Regions from separate parts of the Homo sapiens genome. Here regions 2, 3 and 4 are each linked to region 1. Evidence: fine-mapped expression QTL. A gene starts in region 1. Each other region holds a variant in brackets. All regions are shown on one strand. Distances are from middle to middle.

What was found. PIP is the estimated chance that this variant, and not a neighbour inherited with it, causes the effect.
Region 2: its variant is fine-mapped to the expression of ORMDL1 in whole blood (TOPMed, PIP 0.95).
Region 3: its variant is fine-mapped to the expression of ORMDL1 in monocytes (Quach 2016, PIP 0.95). The same link has a PIP of 0.9 or more in monocytes after Pam3CSK4.
Region 4: its variant is fine-mapped to the expression of ORMDL1 in whole blood (TOPMed, PIP above 0.99).

What each region holds. Positions count from the first base shown.
Region 1 is chr2:189,781,243-189,787,348 of GRCh38, forward strand. It overlaps ORMDL1 (ORMDL sphingolipid biosynthesis regulator 1), which reads right to left and starts at 3,097. Exons shown (of 5, transcript NM_016467.5): 1 at 3,027-3,097; 2 at 1,772-1,881; 3 at 1,180-1,360. The coding sequence starts at 1,353. It overlaps PMS1 (PMS1 homolog 1, mismatch repair system component), which reads left to right and starts at 3,208. Exons shown (of 13, transcript NM_000534.5): 1 at 3,208-3,351. RefSeq lists enhancers at 2,384-3,270, 2,556-2,635, 2,726-2,785, 2,796-3,025, 3,576-3,625 and a silencer at 3,166-3,215.
Region 2 is chr2:189,749,855-189,755,960 of GRCh38, forward strand. OSGEPL1 (O-sialoglycoprotein endopeptidase like 1) reads right to left here. Exons shown (of 9, transcript NM_022353.3): 3 at 5,319-5,706; 4 at 4,287-4,491; 5 at 4,062-4,210; 6 at 2,995-3,125; 7 at 2,799-2,870; 8 at 696-802. The coding sequence ends at 724. It also overlaps a transcript of ANKAR not described here. Among named protein-coding and RNA genes, the nearest start is that of OSGEPL1-AS1, 9.9 kb to the right of the region's middle. The variant A/G (reference allele first, on the strand shown) is at 3,063.
Region 3 is chr2:189,737,712-189,743,817 of GRCh38, forward strand. ANKAR (ankyrin and armadillo repeat containing) reads left to right here. Exons shown (of 23, transcript NM_001378068.1): 18 at 1-130; 19 at 854-971; 20 at 3,631-3,740; 21 at 5,564-5,763. Among named protein-coding and RNA genes, the nearest start is that of OSGEPL1-AS1, 22 kb to the right of the region's middle. The variant T/C (reference allele first, on the strand shown) is at 3,777.
Region 4 is chr2:189,663,600-189,669,705 of GRCh38, forward strand. ASNSD1 (asparagine synthetase domain containing 1) reads left to right here. Exons shown (of 6, transcript NM_019048.4): 2 at 302-355; 3 at 1,777-1,852; 4 at 2,442-3,997; 5 at 4,165-4,346. The coding sequence starts at 2,534. ASDURF (ASNSD1 upstream open reading frame) reads left to right here. Exons shown (of 4, transcript NM_001353493.2): 2 at 302-355; 3 at 1,777-1,852; 4 at 2,442-2,802. The coding sequence ends at 2,512. Among named protein-coding and RNA genes, the nearest start is that of ASNSD1, 5.2 kb to the left of the region's middle. The variant T/C (reference allele first, on the strand shown) is at 3,290.

The DNA of each region.
Region 1 (6,106 bases):
AAAATCAATTTCTCCTGTTTTCCTGTCTTAATGCTTTAAGTTCATTTTAAAAAATATCTTTCAACAAATGTACTGCTAAACTGGATTCAATTAAAATCCTCAACTAACTGTATTTCCTCCTTTTCACGTTACTTTAATGGGTTATTAAAGACAAGAAAAGTCGCTGTCAAGATTTTTTGTTTTTGTAAAAGGCAATTTCCAGGGCTGCATAATATGGTCAGTACAGTCAATCAAAACTTTGATACTCTGTAGAGCTAACACAAGAGAGTAACAAGCAGCAGCTAAGGCACCATAAGATCCTGAATCACATAAGATGATTAAGTTCAAAACTTAAATACTGAAACAGTGAAGTATACTTACACTATTTAGATAGATAAGTTAACAAGGATTGAAACTAAAATGATCTATTTTCTAGATTCTATACAATGAGAAAAAAAAAAGTCTTACTTAGAAAAAGGACCAATGTTGAAATAAAGCGTGAAAGAAAAAAGAAAATTCTATCCCAGATTAGAATTCTTCAAAATTAAGTCTTATATACTAAAAACTACTAAACTATACACTTTAAATGGGTGGATTTTATTGCATGTGAATTATATCTCAAAAAAGCTGTTAAAAAAACTAAGTTGTATACAACACAAAACCTTAAGCTTCTTTAAAAACTATGTTTAAACACACATGTCATAAAGTTTACCATCTTAGACACTTTTTTTTTTTTTTTGAGACGAAATCTCACTCTGTCACCTAGGCTGGAGTACAGTGGAATGATCTCGGCTCATTGCAACCTCTGCCTCCCAGGTTCAAGCGATTCTCCTGCCTCAGCCTCCCGAGTAGCTGGGACTACAGGCATGCGCCACCATGCCCGGCTAATTTTTGTATTTTTAGTAGAGATGAGGTTTCACCATGTTGGCCAGGCTGGTCTTGAACTCCTGACCTTGTGATCTGCCTGCCTTGGCCTCCCAAAGTGCTGGGACTTTAAATGTACAGTTGAGTGGTATTAAAAACATTCATATTGTTGTGCAATCATCACCATTACCATCCACATCCAGAACTCTCTTCATCTTGCAAAACCAAAAACTCTGTACCCATTAAGCAATAACTTTCCATTCCTTCCTCCCCTTAATTTCCGGCAACCACTAAACTTAAAACTTTTAAGTGTTTAGTATAATGTGAAATTCTTACCAGATTATGTATAATATTTGTTAAAGTCCAAGCAACAGGAACACTGAAGAAGGGAATGCTGAGTAAGACAATATGAAGCAAGCCAACTCCCAATGCATATGTCAGCCACATACCCCGGCTGTTCATGACACGGGTATTTGGATTCACTTCACTGTGGGCAACTCCAACGTTCATGTTTGCTCTGTAGGAAGTAATGAAATGAATCAACACTGATACAACTGGCAACCTAACACCCCCAATTCTGACATGACAAGGTACCTGTGTTGCGAGGATTATTTTTTCCTAGTTACTTTGAAGTAGCACACAAACACCATCCAAAATATGCTACTTGTAGATGCTGATGACAGCAGTAAAGAATCTTCAGCATTTGACTTTAGGGTAAGACAAGACTTGTTATTATGGTTCTATTTGAAAAAATAGTTACAATGCCTTTCCAAAAGTTTGTTTTCTAGCATGTTGTTTTACTGAATAGGAAAATTCAAACTGAAAGAGAAAACCTACATTTTCTTATATCATGAGAGCAAAGTGAAAAGCCAAAAGCTAAATTTACCAACATAATAAATTTATATTAAAAAGAAAAAGCAGAACTCACCGAGCCAGTGTGTCAAGTAGTCAGACTCTTATATTTGACTTAATGTATCCATAAAGAATGGTCAGAGTTCAGATCACTTCTTTCTGAATACTCAATGTGGAAGGTACATGCTGTTGACATAATGTGGTGTAAAATTTACATGGTCAAGGGATAATGTTTGTTTCTCAATTTTGTGATTAAACTAGGTGAAAATAAGGAGTCTTCTGAATATTTCTCTAGTCAAATCAAAAACTTCAGTTTTCTTTCTTCTTTTTAAAAAAGGTTTTCCCTTCTCCTTTCCATTGAAGATGGACTCCAAAGGAAGAATTGATAATAGTTCTCAGTTCTTTTAATGATGGTGTTTACTTGAGACTAAGAATTGCTTAAAATAAAACTGTCCTGAAGAACACCTATCATCCGACGGAGGGGGAAAACGAGGCTAGATTATATTTGGAACAGCTGTGATTTTAAAATACACAAACGCTTGTATTACGGAGTTAGCATACAGAGAGGAATTTCTCATAACCCCTTCCAGCAAATGTTTCCGGAGTATAATGCTCCTTCCGCTCTAGAGACCCATAGAACAGGCATCAAGGGTTAAGGGGACGAAAAGTTAGTTACACTAAGACCGCTAAAGCCTCCAATTTATATGTGTAAATCTTTCGTCTAAACACCCATGATTTATCATACATTAAACTATTATGTCATACTTAGAACATGCCAACACTCAAGATAGTTTTCCCACGTTCCACAGGATGGAGGCCTGAAATTTACATCTCAGCTGGAAGGCAAAGCTGGTGCGGTACTCATCCTATTCCAACCAGAAAACCTTTTCCCAGCAGGTTTGCCGCGCTGCCCACGACTGGCAAACAATGACCTTACAGACCGTGAAGAGGCTGTTGGCTCTGCCCTCGCCGGTGCCTCCGAAGACGGCGACCCGCAGCGGCCCCTCAGGGGAGTCCCCCCTGCTAGACCGACAGCCCGAGCGCTCTGGGCCAGAGAAAACTCAGCAAAAGCCGCCGCTGCTACCACCTCAGCGCCTCCCCCAACCCGCCCCTTCCTTCTCGCGGCCGCACGTCACGTCAGGACCCTGGCAAGACAACGAGGATTTGCGTAGGGGGCGAGCCTCTGAGGCCACTTGGCTCTTACGGCCACGCAGGGCGCCGCAGATGCAGCCGGAGCCCGCTTTTCCCTCTCAGGACGACCCCTAGGCCGCCAGCAGTTCCCTACCGACGAAGGCGACTGTACAGCGTCCACCGCGTTCGTGCCCACTTACCCGCCGCCCCACTCCGGGCCGCCGGCTCGCAGCAGGACCAGCCCGGCTGCTACGGCCGCGGATACACGCCCTCAGGCCCGGCGCTGCGCAGCTTGCGGAAGCTTTCCCGGACAGACTCGCTGCCAGCGGATTGGCTGCGAGCAGCGCCAATCTCACGTTGCCCCCGGGCGAGGCGGGACTCAGTGCCGCGCTCTCTGCACCCGCTCTGCCGCGCGCGTGCGTGCTGGGTGCGGGTGCGGGTGCGGGGTTGGGCCTGCGCATCGGGTGAGACGCTGGCTGCTTGCGGCTAGTGGATGGTAATTGCCTGCCTCGCGCTAGCAGGAAGGTAGTGTGGTGTGACTAACGGGTATTTATTATATCCTCGATGGCTCGAGGGCCCCGTCCCCTCTACTCGTCCTGGTCCGGGCGCGAACGCTATAGGGCAGCTAAGGGCGCTCCCCGCGGGGCGGGAAGCGAAGCCGGGCTTGCGGGCGCGCACACGTGGAACGCGTTTTCTGAGCAGGTCTGGGCTCCGGGGTGTTCTGGCTTGGTCTTTGTTGCGTCCCATTCCCCAGACCCTTCTGGGTGGAGGACTTAAAATTTGTTTTCCAGGCAGCAGATTTAACCCATGGCAACTGTAACTCATCTTGTGTGAGTGGCGGTTTATAGTATTGTATCCTGTGGCATCATACAAGGGGTGCAAGTTAAACTCTTTAAAGTTAATCACGATTTTTGCTCTTGGCCTTCTGGGTTTATCCGTACGCCGAAGACAGGCACCTGTATTACATGCTAAGGAAATGTGAATACCAAAAATTGATCCTGAGGAAAGTCTTGATTAGGTTTTTTTGGAATCGCCTTTGAAATGTAATTTCCCTCACCTTGGCAGTGCAGAAAGTTTGTGATTTTTATTGCCGAAATAGCTTTCAACATTTTGAAATTGACTTAAGAGAATGTTGGCTGTGTATGTCTGTATCTTGCATTTCTGTTGGCTTTGTGAACCTAATTGTTTTGGATTTAGTCTGATCTTTAAATAAATGATTTCTTTGTGTTCTCTCTAATGGAAGTCTGTGAGTTCTCTGATCTTTACTTCTTTTTTAGGCACACCTGTTGTCCTTAACTGACTTTCCGGGTCATCAGCACTTCTTCAGAAGTGTTCCTTTTCCCTCCCAGCAAATATGGAAGACTGACTATCCTGATATTCCCAGACATTCTTTGCTGTGATTTGTAAGCCCGATATAAACCCTTCCATTTGGTACACATATGGTATAGAGTGCTATATTCCAGGGGCTATGCTAGCGATGTGTGATTGATATAAAACCCCTGTCCTCAAAGAACTCTGAGTCAGGAGCAACAGACAGAAACACATATTAATAGAGTAACTTGTGATGAGGTTAATTAGAAATGAGGTAAAGGGGGACTGCAGGGGAAGGAATACCTAATCTGTTGGCAGGTGAAGGAAAGGAGGCTGCAGCAGGGAAGAAAGGCTTGAAGAGTTGATACTGAACTAAATCTGGAAGGATGATTAGAAGTCAGCTGAGAGAGAACCATGTGAGCTGAGGAAGGAGTGAGTGTCACCATGTTAAGAGAGACAAGTTGGCTGGGCACGGTGGCTCACACCTGTAATCCCAGCACTTTGGGAGGCCAAGGCGGGCGGATCACCTGAGGTCAGGAGTTCGAGACCAGCCTGGCCAACATGGTGAAACCCTGTCTCTACTAAAAATACGAAAATTAGCCGGGCGTGGTAGTGCGCTCCTGTAATCCCAGCTACTTGCAGGGCTGGGACAGGAGAATTGCTTGAACCTGGGAGGCAGAGGTTGCAGTGAGCCAAAATCGCTGCACTCTGGCCTGGGCAACAAAGTGAGACCCTGTCACAAAAAATAAAAAATAAAAAAAGACGAGCTGTGCAGTATGATCGCCCTAGAGCACATTTGGGCAACGATGGGATGACTGGGAGAGGAGGCAAAAATCCAGTTGTTAAGAAGTTTGTACTTAACCTGGTTGGCAATTGGAAACCTTTATAAAAATTTTAAGTGGGGCAGCAACATGATGAAATTTAAATACAGAAAGAACCCTATAGGTGGTTGAGATTCGAGTCAAAATATCAATTAGGTGGTTATTGCAGTAGTTCAGGAGAGAAAGGCCGAATGGAGGCAGTACAAAGAGGAGAGGACTAGTTTGGGAAACATTTAGATAGTAGGAGAGAGATGACTGGGTGGCAGGATGTAGAGAGCGAGTAGAATTTCTAGGATGACTTCAAGGTTTCTAATTTTGCTTTATGTGCTTGGATGGAAGGTGTTTGAGAGCATGGCCTTTGGAGTCAAACATGCCAAGGTGTGCATCTGCCACTTAATAGTTTTGTGATCTTGAGCAAGTTACCATGCCTTTAAATCCTATTTGGTGATAAAGGATGATAGAATACGTAGAGTTGTTGTGAGGATTAAATAGGATAATATATATAAAATTCTCATGTTGGCTATTACTTTTATTATCAAACAAGAAATATAGGAAGAAAGTTGATTAGAGGCCAGTCGTGGTGGCTCACGCCTGTAATCCCAGCACTTTGGGAGGCCGAGGCGGGCGGATCACCTGAGGTCAGGAGTTTGAGACCAGCCTGGCCAACATGGTGAAACCTTGGCTCTACTAAAAATACAAAAAATTAGCCAGGTGTGGTGGCGGGCACCTGTAATCCCAGCTACTCGGGAGGCTGAGGCAGGAGAATCGCTTGAACCCGGGAGGTGGAGGCTGCAGTGAGCGGAGATTGTGCCATTGCATTTCAGCCTGGGCAACAAGAGCGAAACCTGAAACTCTGTCTCAAAAAAAAGAAAGAGAAAGATTCTCTGATCAGTTTGGGACATGTTATGTTTAGGTTGCCTTCAGGTCATCTAAATGATGATATTTAGAAGGTAGATGGAAGTAAGGCCCTAAAGTCCAGAAAAAAAGTGTGAGATACAGGTGAGCTGGAGGATGGTGTGGAAGCCAATTGAAATTATGTATATAAAGGGAAGGAGGATACTTTTTCTAATGTTTGCGTTAGCATAAGAAAGATGCTGATAAATTATATTTAGTGGTCCTTCATTAATATTCATGAAGTGAAGGGCTTG
Region 2 (6,106 bases), 31 kb before region 1:
AGCACATCTGTAATCCCAGCATTTTGGGAGGCTGAGGCAGGCAGATTGCCTGAGCTCAGGAGTTCAAGACCACCCTGGGCAACATGGTGAAACCCCATCTCTACTAAAAAAACAAAAAATTAGCCAGACGTGGTGGTGGGCTCCTGTAGTCCCAGCTACTCAGGAGGCTGAAGCAGGAGAATCGCTTGAACCCAGAAGGTAGAGGTTGCATGCAGTAAGCTGAGATCACGCCACTGCAATCCAGCCTGGGTGACAGAGGGAGATTATCTCCAAAAAATAATAATGATAAAAAAAAATTAAACTGCTCTCTCATTATAAAGTCAGGTTCTTGTTTCAGTAGGAGTTAAAAAATAGCTTCTCCTATCCTGATTTGAGGAAGTGGGGGAAAGTCCTAGGCCTGTATGATACAGGGCCAGAATTCAGCAAAATTACTGTGCTTCTTTCAAAGCTTCCTTTCTACCTGCCAGCATCAATACATTCCTTTCTCAAAAGATGTTTTATTTTGGTTTTTAATAATTAAAAGAAAAAAACTATCTTCCCTTGTAAGACTTTTAACACATTATAGTATCTCAGAAGAGCAGGTAAAACATCAAATAGAAAAAAAAAAATAAAATCTTGATGAATAATTAATATTATATATCTTCTACAATTTGATACACAAAACAATAAAAACTTAATTTTAACCTTAATACTACCTTTAGGGACTTTTTTGAACAGCAGAAATCATATCTCCATTTTTAATTGTGGTACTTTTATGGAAGCTTCTCCAACTTCTTTTGATATGTCTACTCCAAGAGGACATCTACATCATAAGCAGACAAATCGTATTATTTATTTGCTTCATGATCCATCACTAGTTCTGCAGACTATTTGCTTAGAATTCTGATGGTATAAATATCAAATATTTAATTCATCATATGTGGTGATGATTCTTAAATACTTACAAATATACTGGGACCTCAAGTCAGGATAATGAAAGCTAGTCTCATTAATAAGAAATCTAAATTTTGAGATATTTTTGAAAGAAACAGTTTTGCTGTTCTCAAATACTGTAAATAAGTTAAAAACATAAAATGAAATATAAAAATAATGAAAAATATCTTATAATTCTCTACAAAGCTAAAAAGGTAAAAACATTTTTGCCACACAGCTAAAGTCAAACCTGTATCCATTCACATTTTAGAAATGTCCTAGGTTTCTATAGGTTCTTCTCTGAAGTTTCAAAAGCTGCCTTGCCCCTTTTCTACCATCCTTTGCCATTACTAGCCAAAGAGGTCTTAGTTCCTGCTGTCTTTTTCTGTTCCTCCTCAGTAACTAATTTTTGCTTCAGATTTCTGCTTTTCTACCATGGTGTCCAAGATAAGGCTTTGCTTTGACTGAATCCCAACCTGGAAAAAGCCATTATCTCCAGCCTCAACACTGCCACAAGGGGGCATAACTGAATCAGAGGATATACTCTATCTGAGACAAGGTATCAAAGGGATGCCTTCCGGTACTACTAACTCAATTCAGTTCATTCATCATCAGCATACATGTAATTCATATATAGCACAACTGTCAAGTTACGGAATATAATGCTGACAAGTTGTGTTTTTTTTTTTTTTTTTTGAGATGGAGTCTCACTCTGTCACCCGGGCTGGAGTGCAGTGGCGTGATCTCGGCTTACTGTAACCTCCACCTCGAGGATTCAGGCAATTCTCCTGCCTCAGCCTCCCGAGTAGCTGCGATTACAGGTGCCTGCCACTACGCCTGGCTAATTTTTGTATTTTCAGTAGAGACGGGGTTTCACCATGTTGGCCAGGCTGGTCTCGAACTCCTAACCTCAGATGATCTGCCCACCTCAGCCTCCCAAAGTGCTGGGATTACAGGCATGAGCCACCATGCCTGGCCAATGCTGACAAGTTTTAAAACATCAGATGAAACAGTGTTCAAAATATAATTATTTATGAAAATAATTGTCTTTTACTATTCCAGAATTAAAACAGAATTTGATAGTAATTTGAAAAACCAGCCAGGTGTGGTGGCTCACACCTGTCATCCCAGCATTTTGGGAGGCCGAGGTGGGTGGATCACTTGAGGCCTGGAGTTCGAGACCAGCCTGGCCAATGTGGCAAAACCCAAAAACTAAAAATACAAAAAATGAGCTGGGCACAGCTGTGTGAACCTGTAATTCCAGCTACTCAGGAGGCTGAGGCATGACAATCACTTGAATATGGGAAGCAGAGGTTGCAGTGAGCCGAGAATGCGCCACTGCACTCTAGCCTGGGTGACACTAAGACTCTAAAAAAAAAAAGAAAAAAAGTAAAGAAAAAACTGTGCTATTCACTGGAACTTTGATTTGGGAGAGGAAATAAGGCTTGCAGGAAACAGCTATCTTTCGGCCAATTCTCAACTGCCTGTGTAAGAGCATAATCACAACCCACTCTCACACCTGAATGCTTTCTGCATGTTTTCCTTAAATTTCCCAGCATACTTGCTGGTTCTGAGATGTTCTTGACATTGCAAAAGTCCAGGTCATGGACATAGTTTACATTCTAGTTCCAAAGGAGGGAATTCATCACCCTTACTCATGACCTGTTTCTAACTCACCTAAACTTGCCAAGATTTTTATAATTTGATACTGTAGCAAAAATATTTCTCATATGGTATCAACCTTAACTAGGTTCATGAAAGAAATTTATGTAACTTTCCTTCAAGTACCACCAGAATGTCAATGAAAACCTCATATATAAAGGCAAAATCCAGGCTTTGTCTTAAGTAATGTAACTTGCATAAAGATCATGAATGATACCACATACTTTGGTTCATAGCGGATGCCTTCTATGTCATGTAAAATGCCCAAGCCAGCACGTAGTCTTTCAATACCATTCCTAAATAAGAAGCATTAAAATAAAATCAATAGCTCCAAGATCTGAAGGAAGAAGGCTTAGTATGATAAAATGGCAATTAATATTTACATAGTTATGAGTGAAGCACGTATATCCTGTGGCTTACCATGCAATCATAATGCCATTATCAGTGCATAGTCTGGGAGGAGGACACAACAAAGTGCACTGTGTTGC[A/G]TTTGTTAAAATTTCCAGAGCTCTGCGGATATAGAAGTTACTTGCGACACCACCAGATGCAACCTGAAGGAATTGAGAAAACCAAAATAACTATCATATATGGATATGAACCAAGCTGCTAATTAAACCTGGAGAAAAATATCAGCATTAAACAATAATAAACTATCCCATTTTGAGATGGGTAATGGGCAGATGACATATCTATGTAATAAAAATTTGGAAAGAAAAAAATTACTAATAATTCTAATAGCATACAAACATTACTAGCATTTTTGTATATTTTCTTCCAACCTTTCATCTAAATATTTATTTAATATAATTTCAATCATAGTACACTATTTTAGACCCTGAAATTTTTATTATTTTGTGCATTTTACTACATAACTCTGAAAAAATTATTCTTTGATATCCATGTAAAATTCCATCTATGAATTACTACCATTTAAACATTTTCCCACTTTAGTTTATAATTTTTAAATGAATAAAGTTTAAGATACAGTTAAACAGGATGTTTGTCAAGGCTTTTAAGCACAATTAAAGGGATTTTGGCTGGTACAATATAGTGGATTATCAGAACTTTATCAACATTAGTGTCACGAAAGTTGGTATACCACCTCCCACTGCTAAATTTGACTGGCTTATTAAAAAAACAAACAAACAAAGGGATTTCATCAAAGGATGAAGGAAATCCACCTATTTTTCTAAAAATAGTGATAGCAGTTACTGCATTTACTTTCTTTATTGTAAGCCCTCTTTTAAATCCAACAAGAAGATGCAAAATTAGACTTATGTGCCATAGAAGCTATACAGCTGTCCCATAAAGCTACCAAACTAGTACAAGAAATGGCTGTTAGTCTTTCCTATCCTGCATAATTTCATACTGTCAGGGCTAGCATAAGGCATAAAGATCTGTTCATCCTAAACACAAGGTCAAGGTCTTGGGAAAAAAGTAACATATTGCAAAGTGTAACTATTACTATAAAATGAGATAAAACTTACCAGTACTGCATTATTTTGAGGTAACAAGTCTCTCTGCTTACAAAACAGAATAGCCCGATGTGTTCTTTTCACAAGATGACATGCCATTGTGTGCTGTACTGTGGCAGCAATGTCTGCTGCTGAAGACAGGATTTGCCCCTTCTCAATACCTGCAGAAATGAGCAGCTATTTTTAGGCACAATCCAGGAATATTTATCTGTTCAACTTTACTAATTAGAAATATACCTTCCTCTTTTTCCTTTTTCATTATTATTTTATCAGTAACGTGTTGAAGTCCAGTAAAAGAAAAATCACAATTTTTAGCATGATGCAAGGGAGGTTTGATGTCAAAATGAAATCTATTTCCTTGTTTGGCCAAATGTTCTATGGCTTTCCCACCACTCATGGTGGAGCACTCTGGATGTTTTATTAAAGAAAGTCTTCTTGCCACCTATCAAAGAAACATATTTTTTAGAGTCATAAAATTAAATACTGTGAAACGAAAAGATGCAAAGGAAATAAATTGAAAATTACTAACAAAACAAAAAACCCCTGAATGAATAAAACATGCTATACTTTGGCAAATATAGACTATAGCTGATATTCAGGTAAGCAGACAACCCTGTTCCTTATGATGACCCGAACAATAAGAGGCCAATCACTGCCCCTGTCTATGTTTGCTCTTCTATTGGTTGGAAAATGGGCTTGAAGTTGACAATAACTGCTTAATGATGAACGTCAATAATAAGAACTTGTCCTATACTTCCTATTATTTCACTGTGGGAAGCAGTGTTTTGTTTGTTTGTTTGTTTGTTTTCCTATATATGGCAGTAGCCTCTGTAGTATTCTAAAACAAAGGGGGGTGGGGGGGGACCCTGTCTGTGGTGTAAGTAATTGTGTGATTTAATTCTGTGCATTGCATCTTTAATGTCCTTATGTTAATCTATATATATTCTCTTATTTTACCTTTTTTGCAGTATGTTAGTTTACGAAGCACGTTCTTTCACATACATTATTTGGCAAAATACATAACTGTATCTGCAAACTATTTCAGCCTTTATGTACAGATATGAACCTCTTACCATTTTATTAAGAAAGGCTAAGAATTATAAAATTGTGTACTACTCTTTCTATTTTTTCTCACCATATGTGAATTTTTTTCAGTTTACTAAGATAAAATTCAGAAATATTTAGGTGAATGGTGGTAGCACATCTATTGCTACTTAGTTGAAATGGACAACATAACAAAAAAGAATGGAGAAATTAATTCTTAATTACCTTGTCAAGCATGTCACCTGGTGCTATGTCCAAAGACTTTCCAAGAAGCAGAAAATCTGAAACTCCTTGAACTAATGCCAACAGACAGTGACCTCCAGAAATCAAAAGAACTAAAAAAGGAAATTCTACTTTATTGGTCAACCTAATAGTAAGTGCATGAGCCTCCATATGATGAATGGGAATGAATGGCTTTTTTAACTGTCCTACCAGCTGTAAGCTAAATGATAAGCCCACTCCCAGGCTTAAAGCAAGTCCTGGTTTTATGGTAGTTGCAATTGCTGAGAGGTCACTTGGAGAGACTCCACTGGCAGAAAGAGCTTCTTGTACTATTCGTTGAATATTTTCTCTGTGAAGCTGTTGAGCTGCTGGAGGAACAATCCCACCTGTTCTGAAAGAAAGAAAGACAGCATTTTGTAGTTTTAAGATTGTAAAAATGAAGAAAAATGATATTACAGCTAAAAGCATGTCTTCAAGTTAATCATTATATAGCTGAGTAAGTCAAGTATTTTCTAATTGTGTGCCTTCTAACATAGCACACTATGGTTAAAACTCAGTAAGCAGTAATTAAGGGGATAATGTTTCTGACTTTTTCAGTTTATGCACAACAGACTCCCATGGATTTGTTTGTTGACAAATGAAATCACCAAAATAATCTTGTAAAGCATTCCATACAAGTTTTGAGCATGGGAAGGACAGGAAAAAATTGTATTTAAGGAAAATTAATTTCCTTGCTGACAGAAGATTTTAAGAGAGATTACTGCGAAAGTATTTGTGTAAAATGATTATAT
Region 3 (6,106 bases), 44 kb before region 1:
AACACTTTTTGCCTTCAATAATCGCTTTCAACAATACTTAATATTGGAAAGTGGAATAATGACCATATCTATTTTTGAACGTTTTCTTGAATCAACAGTTGAAACTGAGAAGGCAATGGCAGCATTTCAGGTATAAAATTGAGATTAACACCTCAAATTAATAAATATGTCATTTTGTGAAAACTTGAAAATTACAACAATTTGGAGGCCCAGAAAAACGTTTACTTATTTGTAAAAACTTAGTACTTTGCACATAAGCCCCTTCTACCTCATAAAAACTCCATTATCTATGAGGATTTCTTCATTAATACAGAATTTTACAAGTTATAAGACACTTGCTTATGCCTTTATACCTCATCTGATGTTTATAACAAGCCTGTAAGGTTGACAATCAGGTAGTATTATTTTCATCACCCCCATATTAAAAGTAAATAGGTAGAAAAACATGTTAGCATCCAAGACAGGTTTTCTAACTGCAAATCTTTAGTTGATCACACTGATCCTTCAACCTAGTAACAACTGTATGTATCTGGGAAGTCTTATTCTCTCTCTTCATTTTCTATCCTGTGCCCTTTAAGAGAAGTAATTTCTATGAACCCATATTGAAAGGGTGCAAAAGTTGCAAACATTGTAGGAAGAATAATAGTACCCCCTATGATCACTGCTATGACCAGACAGGGACAAATACTCTAACTCTCCCCACCACCACATGCTGCTTCTATTGAATCCTCTAAACACTCCCTTTAAGAAGTATCAAAAGAATTAAAAAAAAAACATAAAAAATGACAAACGTGTAATTAGAGAAGCTGAGTAGAAAATGTTCAAAGACTCTCTGCTTCTTTTCTGTTTTCAGATTGTTGTACTGGCTAAAGTCATTAGAGATATGGACCATATTACTTTGTCTGCAAGAGGTGTTACTATTTTAGTTGATAGTCTGTATTCAGTTCAGACTTCTACTATTGTCTTGACAGGTAAGAAATGACTAGAAGTTAATTTTAGCCACATAAAACTATTTTCAAAAACAGTTTATTGTAATCTGAATAATAATAAAATAATACGCCTGATACACTGCCACAAGTTTAAAGAACGAACTTATGTTTATATCTACATGGAACTCCACAGCAAGTCTACACGAAACAATGGGTGTCTACTCTGTACCCCAAACAGAAGCTGAGTAACTCTGAATACAGACTTTTTGCTTTCCTAATTACTTTTTCAAACCCTTAACTTTTTTTTCCAAGATATAAATGAGAATTCACCTATGACCTACAAACAGCAAAATAAAAAAACTGATTTATAATAGTGGTGGCAGATTTACACAGATGTACCTCTGTCTGGTTTCCTTTTGTCCAGTTGTGCACATTTTGCTAACACTGAAAAGTTCTTTACATCGCTGTGCAACAAAGCAAAGCAAGATGGTCCCATAGCGTTCTCAACACATTTATTGCTATTGTATAACTGTGTCTACTGCAGACCTAACCCAACAGCTCACACATAATAGGTGATCAGTAATATTTAATTGACTTGTTATGCCACTCTTAAAGTAACATAAGGCAGGGTCAGAATGAGTAATATGCAGTGACTACTACCAATATAAACAAATAAGTATTTGTTTTTTAATTAAAATGTATCACTAAAGGAAACTTTACTTGATGCCATAGAATTACATGTTTATGAAGTATATGTGCATGGCAAGGAAGGAAAAATGAAGCAATGAAAACTTTCTGATGGAAACTAGCTAGAAAAAAAGTTTAAAGAAGTTATTAAATATGTTTTAATCTAAATAACATTATTAATTCAATGTTATAGTAATTCTGTGACTCTGAAAAACAACTGTAGTGGGTTTAGACTCCACAGTTTTTTTTTTTTTTGAGATGGAGTCTCACTCTATTGCCAGGCTGGAGTGCAGTGGTGCGATCTTAGCTCACTGTAACCTCCGCCTCCCAGGTTCAAGCGATTCTCCTGCCTCAGCCTCCCGAGTAGCTGGGACTACAAGCATGCACCACCAAGGCCAGCTAGTTTTTGTATTTTTAGTAGAGATGGGGTTTCACCATGTTGGCCAGGATGGTCTCGATCTCTTGACCTCATGATCCGCCCGCCTCGGCCTCTCAAAGTGCTGGGATTACAGGTATGAGCCACCACACCTGGCCTCCACAAACTCTTATAGGAAAGAAATGCCATATTACATTGGCTTTCAAATATTAAATTAATTCCTCCAGGATGAGGAGAAATGAATCTCAGAAATTACTGGACTTTCTCTGCACTCCACAACCAGTCATATGCATGTCCAGGGTATCTCAGGCAAAGCTTGATATTCAGGCCTCAGGTATAGTGTAAAATAACTGATGTGCTTGGTGTCAAGTTGACATGGTTTCCAGAAGATGCTCCAAAGGCACAGAAGTTTTTAGGAAACTGATTTCTGTTACCAAGAATTCAGTTTTCCTATTTATACCACTTAGCTATTCTCTACTCGGAGTTCCTCCTTCTACTCCTTTGAGAACTATAAACTTTAGTTCTCTTTCTTAGCTGCTCCCTTGGTCTGTTTCCATTTCTAACTTCCCATCTTTAAAGGGTCTTTTTAACTTTAAATAGAGCTTACCTTTAGACAATTTTTGCTTTAGATGATACAACCAATTTTCCCCATTCGGAGGCAATAAACACAAGGAATTTCTTGGCTTATAATAGAGGCCAGACAAAAATATAAGGAGAACAAAAACTCACGTCATATCTCAATAAAGTATCCACATACTCCACACAGAAATATGAAAATACATTTTTATCTTCAAACAAATATAAATGAAATAATATTCAGTTGCTAGCTGCACATTTAATTATTGGGACACTTTATTATTTTAAATCTGAAAACATTTACTTTTATGTAAAAACTTCAGTGATTTTTAAACCTCAATAAGCAATACATTGATTGATTTTAAAGTATTAATAAGGCTTAACTCAAAGCCATTTCAACCGCAAAAAGGACATATTAATTTTTTTTTTTTGAGACGGAGTTTCGCTCTTGTTGCCCAGGCTGTAGTGCAATGGCACGATCTCTGCTCACTGCAACCTCTGCCTCCCAGGTACAAGCGATTCTCCTGCCTCAGCCTCCCGAGTAGCTGGGATTACAGGCATGTACCACCACGCCCGGCTAATTTTTGTATTTTTAGTAGAGATGGGGTTTCTCCATGTTGGTCAGGCTGGTCACGAACTCCCGAAGTCAGGTGATCTGCCCACCTCGGTCTCCCAAAGGGCTGGAATTACAGGTGTGGGCCACCACGCCCGGCCTAAATTTTCTTATGATAATTAAATCATTATGTTCATAGTTATTTTTAAAACCCTAAAAACTTCAAAACAAAATATATTCTGAAGATATGGGAGAAAGAAAACCTCTAATTTTCAAATTTTTCACCCTTACATAAACCTATTTAATTTACACTATTTGTGACAGAAAACCAAACTGTAATTTTGGGGAGTTTATTCTATATTTACATATGCATGCTTTTTCTCAGTGCTGCTTCATTGACAGAGATGTCTTGTGACACAAACTTTTTTCAGTGCTATGTGCAATTAATGAAAGTATTATAAGTTTATATCAATTAAATAACACAAGCATTTTTCTTGTTTAATTTATAGGGAATTTAATAGCAAGCCTGGCTCATTCTAGAGCTGGTATCCCAGAAGCATTTACCACATTAGGAACAATCCAACGGCTCTGCTATCATTTGTACTCGGGAATAGAAGAGGTAAAAACAAGCAAAAACTAATTCTAAAATTAAATA[T/C]GCTAAAAATATAATTTACCTCTCCCTCTGTGGACTAATTTTTCCACTGATTGACTGTGTTATAGATATAATATAATTCTTATTACTAACTCAAAATTACATGACTGTGTTATATATATAATATAGTTCTTGTTACTAACTCAAAATTACATGACTTTTCTAATACTAATTAGTCATACATATCTGCCATCCACAATTTTAATTCCTATAAAAATATACATTTGTTTTAACCCTAAGACTTAAAATTAGGATTTTAATCACAAAAGCAGTATAAAACGACTACAATTAAAGATTTAAAAAGAACTACCTGTTCAAATTAGTTTCTGATTTAAAAAACAAAAACAAAACCCTACAAAATAAGTCATCTTAATCCTGGAATTAAGAGTCAATCTATAAGTACGTTGATGACAAAGAAACTTATAATTGTTTACTAAGTATCTAATGAAAACCGGTGACTCTGATCTAAGTTATTTCTATGATTTGAAATGAATGAAAATGGAATTCATAGGATAGCTTTCCTTATGTGTCAAGCAGGGTTAGATGTAAGGGTGTGTGAAAGAGGCCGTGCTGGTCACAGCAGTGGCTTGCCTCTGAGTGTTCCCCTACTCTCTTCCACTAAGGTCTAAAGCAGTGTTACTCCACCTTTAGGGTATATCAGAATCACCTGGAGGGCCTGTTATATTGCTTGGCCCCATTCCTAGAGTTTCTGAGCCAATACATTTGAGGTGGGCCCTAGAATTTGCATTTCGAACAAGTTCCCAGCAGCTGAACTACAGGTCCAGGGTTCAAGGTTTAGAAGACATATGAGCATACAGAGCAACCGGATGCCAACATAAAGACCAATATGTTCATTCTATGAAACTTTTTATGCTACTATCATATTCCCTACAACTGGCCAGGAACATACTTTAATTAATCATATGACCAATCTATGGGTCATAGACAGAGGGTATTTTCTTCAAAGAACTATTTTTTCTAGAGTCCTGTGGCCTGACACTTGTGCTTCTTTCTGTTTTTGCCAGTGGAAAAGTGAGTTGCTCTTGTAACGTCTGAATGTTAAAAAAAAATTTTTTTAAAGTAATAAATAAATAAATAAGTTGCTTTCTCTAAGATTTCTGTTACCAAGAGTTCAGCTTTCCTATGTGTACCACTTAGCTATTCTCCAAAGTGTCTGTTCCTACTCCTTTGAGAATGATAAACAAAATAATTAAATAAGAGTTTCTAGGGATGGAACCCAGGCATAATTGTCAAAGTTATATGGGTGATGCTAATGCATTGTCAGGGTTGCATCCACTACCTTAGTTCAAACTCAAGTTCTTTCTTTGGTGGCACATTAGAATTACCTGACACACACACACACACACATTAGAATTACCTGACACACACACACACACACACACACACACTAGAATTACCTGACACACACACACACACACACACACACACACACACACACACACACACACACACACACACACACACACACACACACACCCCTGAAAGGATTCTGATTTAGTTGGTGGGCTTTTTTTTTTTTAAACACTCCAGGTGGTTCTAAAATGCAGTTAAGACTGAGAACAACCACTAGAAATCAATGGCAGTTGACAGCTCTCTGTAAAAATATGGCAGTTAAGCTTCCGTCTATACACTGCCATTTGTTTGCATACATATTTGCTTACACTTGCTCCCTCCCTTACAGAGACTTTCCTATGAAATAGCTAATTAGAACATTAAGATATTTTAAGAACAAAGCCCACTGGTTAAGAAAGAATTGTTTCTTCATTTAGGTTCGTGCAGCTTGTTCCTCTGCTCTTGGCTACTTAACATACAATGCAAATGCTTTCCGCATCCTATTAAAAGAATGCAGGAATAAACCTAATCAGTTCATTCGTATAAAAAATAATATCAGCAGAGATGCAAGTATTAACCCAGCATTTTTAAAGGAATTTCAAATGCAACAAACACTGGTGGGACTTCCTTCCTTAAGGTATGGTCCTATGTTAGAAGTTGCAGTAGTGAAATCATCGATAGAGGAGACTTTAATGAGGTTTAGTAAGATCCAACAAGAGGAACTATTCTTGATATGAACATATCTCCTGTATAGCAGAGGATAAACTTTATTCTAAATGACCACTGCCACAACCTGTTTTAATTCCAACTCAGCACCAGAGTTGTGGGTGCAGACAAGAACACATCTAGATCTTAGAGATCCTCTCTGGCCAGGATTATTCACATTTTAGAAAGTTTTGGGGAGACTGGTTACCACAACATCTGATTCAAGAAGTCACTTTTTAGCAGACTAGGGATACATTTGAGAGTTCTGAGACAAG
Region 4 (6,106 bases), 120 kb before region 1:
AACTGTAGTCCTTGGCATGATTGCTGGTTATGAACACGAAAATCCCTGTCTGGTCTTAATGGGTTACCTAACATTTTGCAAGTCTAATCACTGTTTTTTCTCCTCCAGCTTTTCCTGAACTGTACCCCCACACAGAGACTCCTGTTGAAAATGATCTGTATATTCACAAACTGCCCGTTTGGAAAACCAGTACATCATAGCCCCTTATCCCATCTCTAATTTTAAAACAACCCCTTAAGGGATTTTCATTGAGCATACTTTGAAAACATCTGACTTAAGGAGTTTTTCTTTATTTCAATAGATTAAAGAACAAAAAATTGTGGTGGATGAACTTTCTAACCTTAAGAAGAATAGGGTGAGTTATTATAGGAATTCTGAATAATATGTGGGAGGTTTATTTATGTTAACTATATATTAAAGTTATAAGAAGTATATATAAGATTTAATCATACTTTAATAAAATGTATAGTATTTCAGCATCTTTTAAAATTGCAAGTGTCTAGATTCTTTTTTTAAATGGATAGATCTCATAGCTGAAGATGTCTTTTTTCTATCATATGCCATTCACATTGCCTTTGCAACAAATGATACTAGTTGTATTTTGGTATCTTGGAGCTATAATCACTAATGATGTTTTATACCTGAATTTGATGTTTTCTTTTGATATAAACGAACTTTATATTGAGATGAGAAGAAACTTTTCTTTTAAATGAATGTGGATAATTATTGAACAAAAAAGGATACATTGCTTCCCCTCCCTCCAAAAAATTTTTACATAGATTTTCCTAAATGTGTAACATGGTTATTTAATGCCATTTCCATTAATATGTTACAAACAAGTAAGCTACTGCTTTGTGTATGGTTATAGTGTCAAATTGCATTTTAACATTCAGGAAGAAATGAGTTTGAGCTCTTAAAAGCTTTGTAAAGATTATGTAATAACTGGCTGGTTAGATATTTCTGATATTGTCACTTATGGAATATTAGAAGTTGAGGCACATACAAAAATTAGCCAGGCGTGTGCCTGTAATCCCAGCTACTCAGGAGGCCGAGGCACAAGAATCGCTTGAACCTGGGAGGCAGAGGTTGCAGTGAGCTGAGCACACCACTGCACTCCAGCCTAGGCTACAGAGCAGGACTCCTTCTCAAAAAAAAAAAAAAGAAGTTGAGGCAGAATTAATACAGACTTTCTCTAGAGGGCAAATTGGCAAAAAGTCTCAACAATTCAAAACTATAACACTTTGACCCAGCAGTTCCATTTATAGTAGTTGATACTTAGGAGAGAATCATGGTAGTGCACAAAGATTTAGTTACAAAGATAATCATCACAACCTTGATTTACAATAGCAAAGAGATGGTAACACCTTAAATGTCTAGTATTTGAAGCTGAGCAAATAAACTGTAATATATTATATCTATATAGCAGTAGGTATAATTTGGTCACCATAGCTTGCTTTGGCATTTTGGTGTTCTTGTAAAAGAACACTTACTGATAAGAAAAAGTATTCTCAATATATTGCTCATTGATAAAAGCATAAATCTGCAGGTACAGTAAGAACCTTTTTTGTTAAAATGGAGAGAAAATAGTTTCATTTCAGTAGTAGCAATTTCTGGTAGTTGGGCAGTGGGTGACTTTTATTTGTCTTTTTGCTTGTCTGTATTTGCTAAAGTATTGTACTGAATAGATTTTCAAGAATTAGTGATAATAGGGTTTAAGGATTTTAATATCTACTTTTTAGATCAAAATTTGATATTAGCCTAAATTATGTTTTCCAGAAAGTATATAGGCAACAACAGAACAGCAATATATTCTTTCTTGCAGACCGAACAGAAATGCTGTCTGAGAGCAAGAGTAAGTTTTTTCTTTTTTGGGGTTTTTGGGGGGTGCCTAAATTATACTCATCTGAGTGTTAAAATATATATCTAAAGATTAATGCAGCAGTTTGATTTTCTTCAAATTAGGCTTCCGAAGATGAGTCAACAGTTATATATATATGTGTATATATATATATATATATATATATATATATATATATATATATATATATTATAAATGTTTTAGAAAGCAATAGTTATTAACATGTGCTTTAGAATTTTAAACAGGTCTAAGTATGACAAACCATTACCACTTTCTACCTTTGTGACTTTGGGTGAAATACTTTAAGCCTCCAAGGTATTGTGGGATCTAAATAAGATGCTATGTTAAAAGTGCTTAGCCAAGTGCTTGGGCCAAAATCAGCACTCGGCAAAACAGAAGCTATTTTTCTAAAAGATAAACATTCTTTATTAGTAGCCTGTTGTTAATTATCATTGGTACTGGCACAGTGTGTGTGTTTATATGGTTTGATTTTGGTAAACAGCTTGTGTTGCCCTCTGAATTGCTAGGTAAAAGTCCAAGAATTTTTATGTTATTTAATATTTATTCTCCTTCCCTGCAACAGATATATTGGATGAACTGAAAAAAGAATACCAAGAAATAGAAAACTTAGACAAGACCAAAATCAAGAAATAGTCAACCTGATTTCACATAACAATGTGTGGCATTTGTTGTTCTGTAAACTTTTCTGCTGAGCATTTCAGTCAAGATTTAAAAGAGGACTTACTATATAATCTTAAACAGCGGGGACCCAATAGTAGTAAACAATTGTTAAAGTCTGATGTTAACTACCAGTGTTTATTTTCTGCTCACGTCCTACACTTGAGGGGTGTTTTGACTACCCAGCCTGTGGAAGATGAAAGAGGCAATGTGTTTCTATGGAATGGAGAAATTTTTAGTGGAATAAAGGTTGAAGCTGAAGAGAATGACACTCAAATTTTGTTTAATTATCTTTCCTCCTGTAAGAATGAATCTGAGATTTTGTCACTCTTCTCAGAAGTACAAGGTCCCTGGTCATTTATATATTATCAAGCATCTAGTCATTATTTATGGTTTGGTAGGGATTTTTTTGGTCGCCGTAGCTTGCTTTGGCATTTTAGTAATTTGGGCAAGAGTTTCTGCCTCTCTTCAGTTGGCACCCAAACATCTGGATTGGCAAATCAGTGGCAAGAAGTTCCAGCATCTGGACTTTTCAGAATTGATCTTAAGTCTACTGTCATTTCCGGATGCATTATTTTACAACTGTATCCTTGGAAATATATTTCTAGGGAGAATATTATTGAAGAAAATGTTAATAGCCTGAGTCAAATTTCAGCAGACTTACCAGCATTTGTATCAGTGGTAGCAAATGAAGCCAAACTGTATCTTGAAAAACCTGTTGTTCCTTTAAATATGATGTTGCCACAAGCTGCA[T/C]TGGAGACTCATTGCAGTAATATTTCCAATGTGCCACCTACAAGAGAGATACTTCAAGTCTTTCTTACTGATGTACACATGAAGGAAGTAATTCAGCAGTTCATTGATGTCCTGAGTGTAGCAGTCAAGAAACGTGTCTTGTGTTTACCTAGGGATGAAAACCTGACAGCAAATGAAGTTTTGAAAACGTGTGATAGGAAAGCAAATGTTGCAATCCTGTTTTCTGGGGGCATTGATTCCATGGTTATTGCAACCCTTGCTGACCGTCATATTCCTTTAGATGAACCAATTGATCTTCTTAATGTAGCTTTCATAGCTGAAGAAAAGACCATGCCAACTACCTTTAACAGAGAAGGGAATAAACAGAAAAATAAATGTGAAATACCTTCAGAAGAATTCTCTAAAGATGTTGCTGCTGCTGCTGCTGACAGTCCTAATAAACATGTCAGTGTACCAGATCGAATCACAGGAAGGGCGGGACTAAAGGAACTACAAGCTGTTAGCCCTTCCCGAATTTGGAATTTTGTTGAAATTAATGTTTCTATGGAAGAACTGCAGAAATTAAGAAGAACTCGAATATGTCACTTAATTCGGCCATTGGATACAGTTTTGGATGATAGCATTGGCTGTGCAGTCTGGTTTGCTTCTAGAGGAATTGGTTGGTTAGTGGCCCAGGAAGGAGTGAAATCCTATCAGAGCAATGCAAAGGTATGACACAGTGTTTCTTCTCCTGAGAATTCCTGAGACCTATTTTTGACCCTTAAAGCTTTTAGCATTTTGATTGTAAGAATATAGCATATTTTAGGTGCATTTATCTTATTTTCTTTACTGTGTAGTTGATAACATTTTTATACGGATTTCTTTAAACCTCATAGGTAGTTCTCACTGGAATTGGTGCAGATGAGCAACTTGCAGGTTATTCTCGTCATCGTGTCCGCTTTCAGTCGCATGGGCTGGAAGGATTGAATAAGGAAATAATGATGGAACTGGGTCGAATTTCTTCTAGAAATCTTGGTCGTGATGACAGAGTTATTGGTGATCATGGAAAAGAAGCAAGGTAATTCTAATCATTTGAGTGTTCTTACGGTATTTTTATAAAAACAGCAGAGTGTAAATGGAGACTTTAAAGTTTGTTTTCTCTTTGGAGACTGTTCACATGAATAAGAGCAGCAATAATAGCTTGGCTTTGTATTATAAACAAAGTCAGAAACAGAGCTGGGAAGAGCCAGGAGAGCATTTATTTTCTAGAACTCATTCTCTAAGAAATGTCTTTTCAGTAATTTTCAAAGGTAACATAATGACAGGATTGTTTTTAAGACTATAGTGAAAAATACTGTCAAAGTAGGCCAGGCATGGTGGCTCACACCTGTCTTCCTAGCACTTTGGGAGGCCAAGGCGGGTGGATCACCTGAGGACAGGAGTTCAAGACCAGCCTGGTAAACATGATGAAACCCCACTTCTACTAAAAATACAAAAAAATTAGCTGATCATGGTGCTGCATGCCTGTAGTTCCAGCTACTCGGGAGGCTGAGAATGGCTGAACCCAGGAGGTGGAGGTTGCAGTGAGCCCAGATCGCGCCACCGCACTCCAGCCTGGGAGACAGTGCGAGACTCTGTTTCCACAAAAAAACAGAGTAAAACTGAGATAGTGAAATACTAAGAGAAGGTATTTAGAGGGTTTTGTTCAGCTTTTAATGTTTGCTTTCCTCCCAGTAAGGGCATAAGCCCCACCTGCAAGCCTTCTCCAGTGTTATAGAAACTGGCTTTGTCTCTATAGACATTTCTGTATGTACAGATCCATGCTGATTTGAAGGTAGTCCTTACACTGGATATTCCTCTGCCACGTTTTTTGAACACAATTTAGTTACATATTGCAGATTACCTAAAACCTTCAAAGAAACCAAGGCACTTTCATGTATGTATTCTTGCTTTTCAGGTTTATTTTTACCTATATCATATTTCTGAAGGTAGTGAACAAGTACAGTATTTGAATAAAACTTTCTAAAACATTAAGTAAGGATAAAGGAAGATGTGACATTTAGTTATAAAGAGCAAAAATTCATTCAAGTAGGCTAATTGATTAAGTGGTAGTTTATTACAAGGGTGCAAGCATCCAAGAATAGGAAGTCCAAGTAAGCTTCATGAGAATTAAACATACTACACTTTCTCTCCCTCTCTCTCTCTCTCTCTTTGACTTCATTGTTTCTTGTCTCTACTTCAGTCTTTTCCTCTTTCCACTGACTTGTAGTTGCCTTTACACAGTTGTCTTTCTTAAGTTTCTGGTCCTAGCCCATGTAAAAGTTTAGCTACTATGTCATTATTCTGTCATAATTTTCAAGATTTCACTATAAACTGATAACTAATGCCATAATAAAGTCCGTAAACTGTTAAACTGTTTTCTCTTTGAAGGACATGAGAGAGGTAGAAATTCAGTCTGTTATTTCAGCTAGGTCATAGAGAAAGGAATTTGTCTAGTAAAAGCCCTTACTTATGAAAGTATTATATTATGCTCAAATAAAAATGCATATGAAGAATGTTTAAAGCAGCTAATACAGAATTGTGATATAACAAATATAGTGGCTAGATCTAAATAATTTATTACGTATCTTGACATACATATTAACAGTAGTGTGTTGATTTGATTCTCTAGTTAAATTTGCTTTTGCAACTCATTCATTTTTATGTAATATTCCAGATAACAAATGTCTTTGTCCTTTCCAATCTCTTAACCTAGAATAGGATGTAATAAAACGGAAACACTAGTGTAACTGTATTGCATTTTGAGATGTGGGATGGTGGGTGTTAAAGTATTTTAAA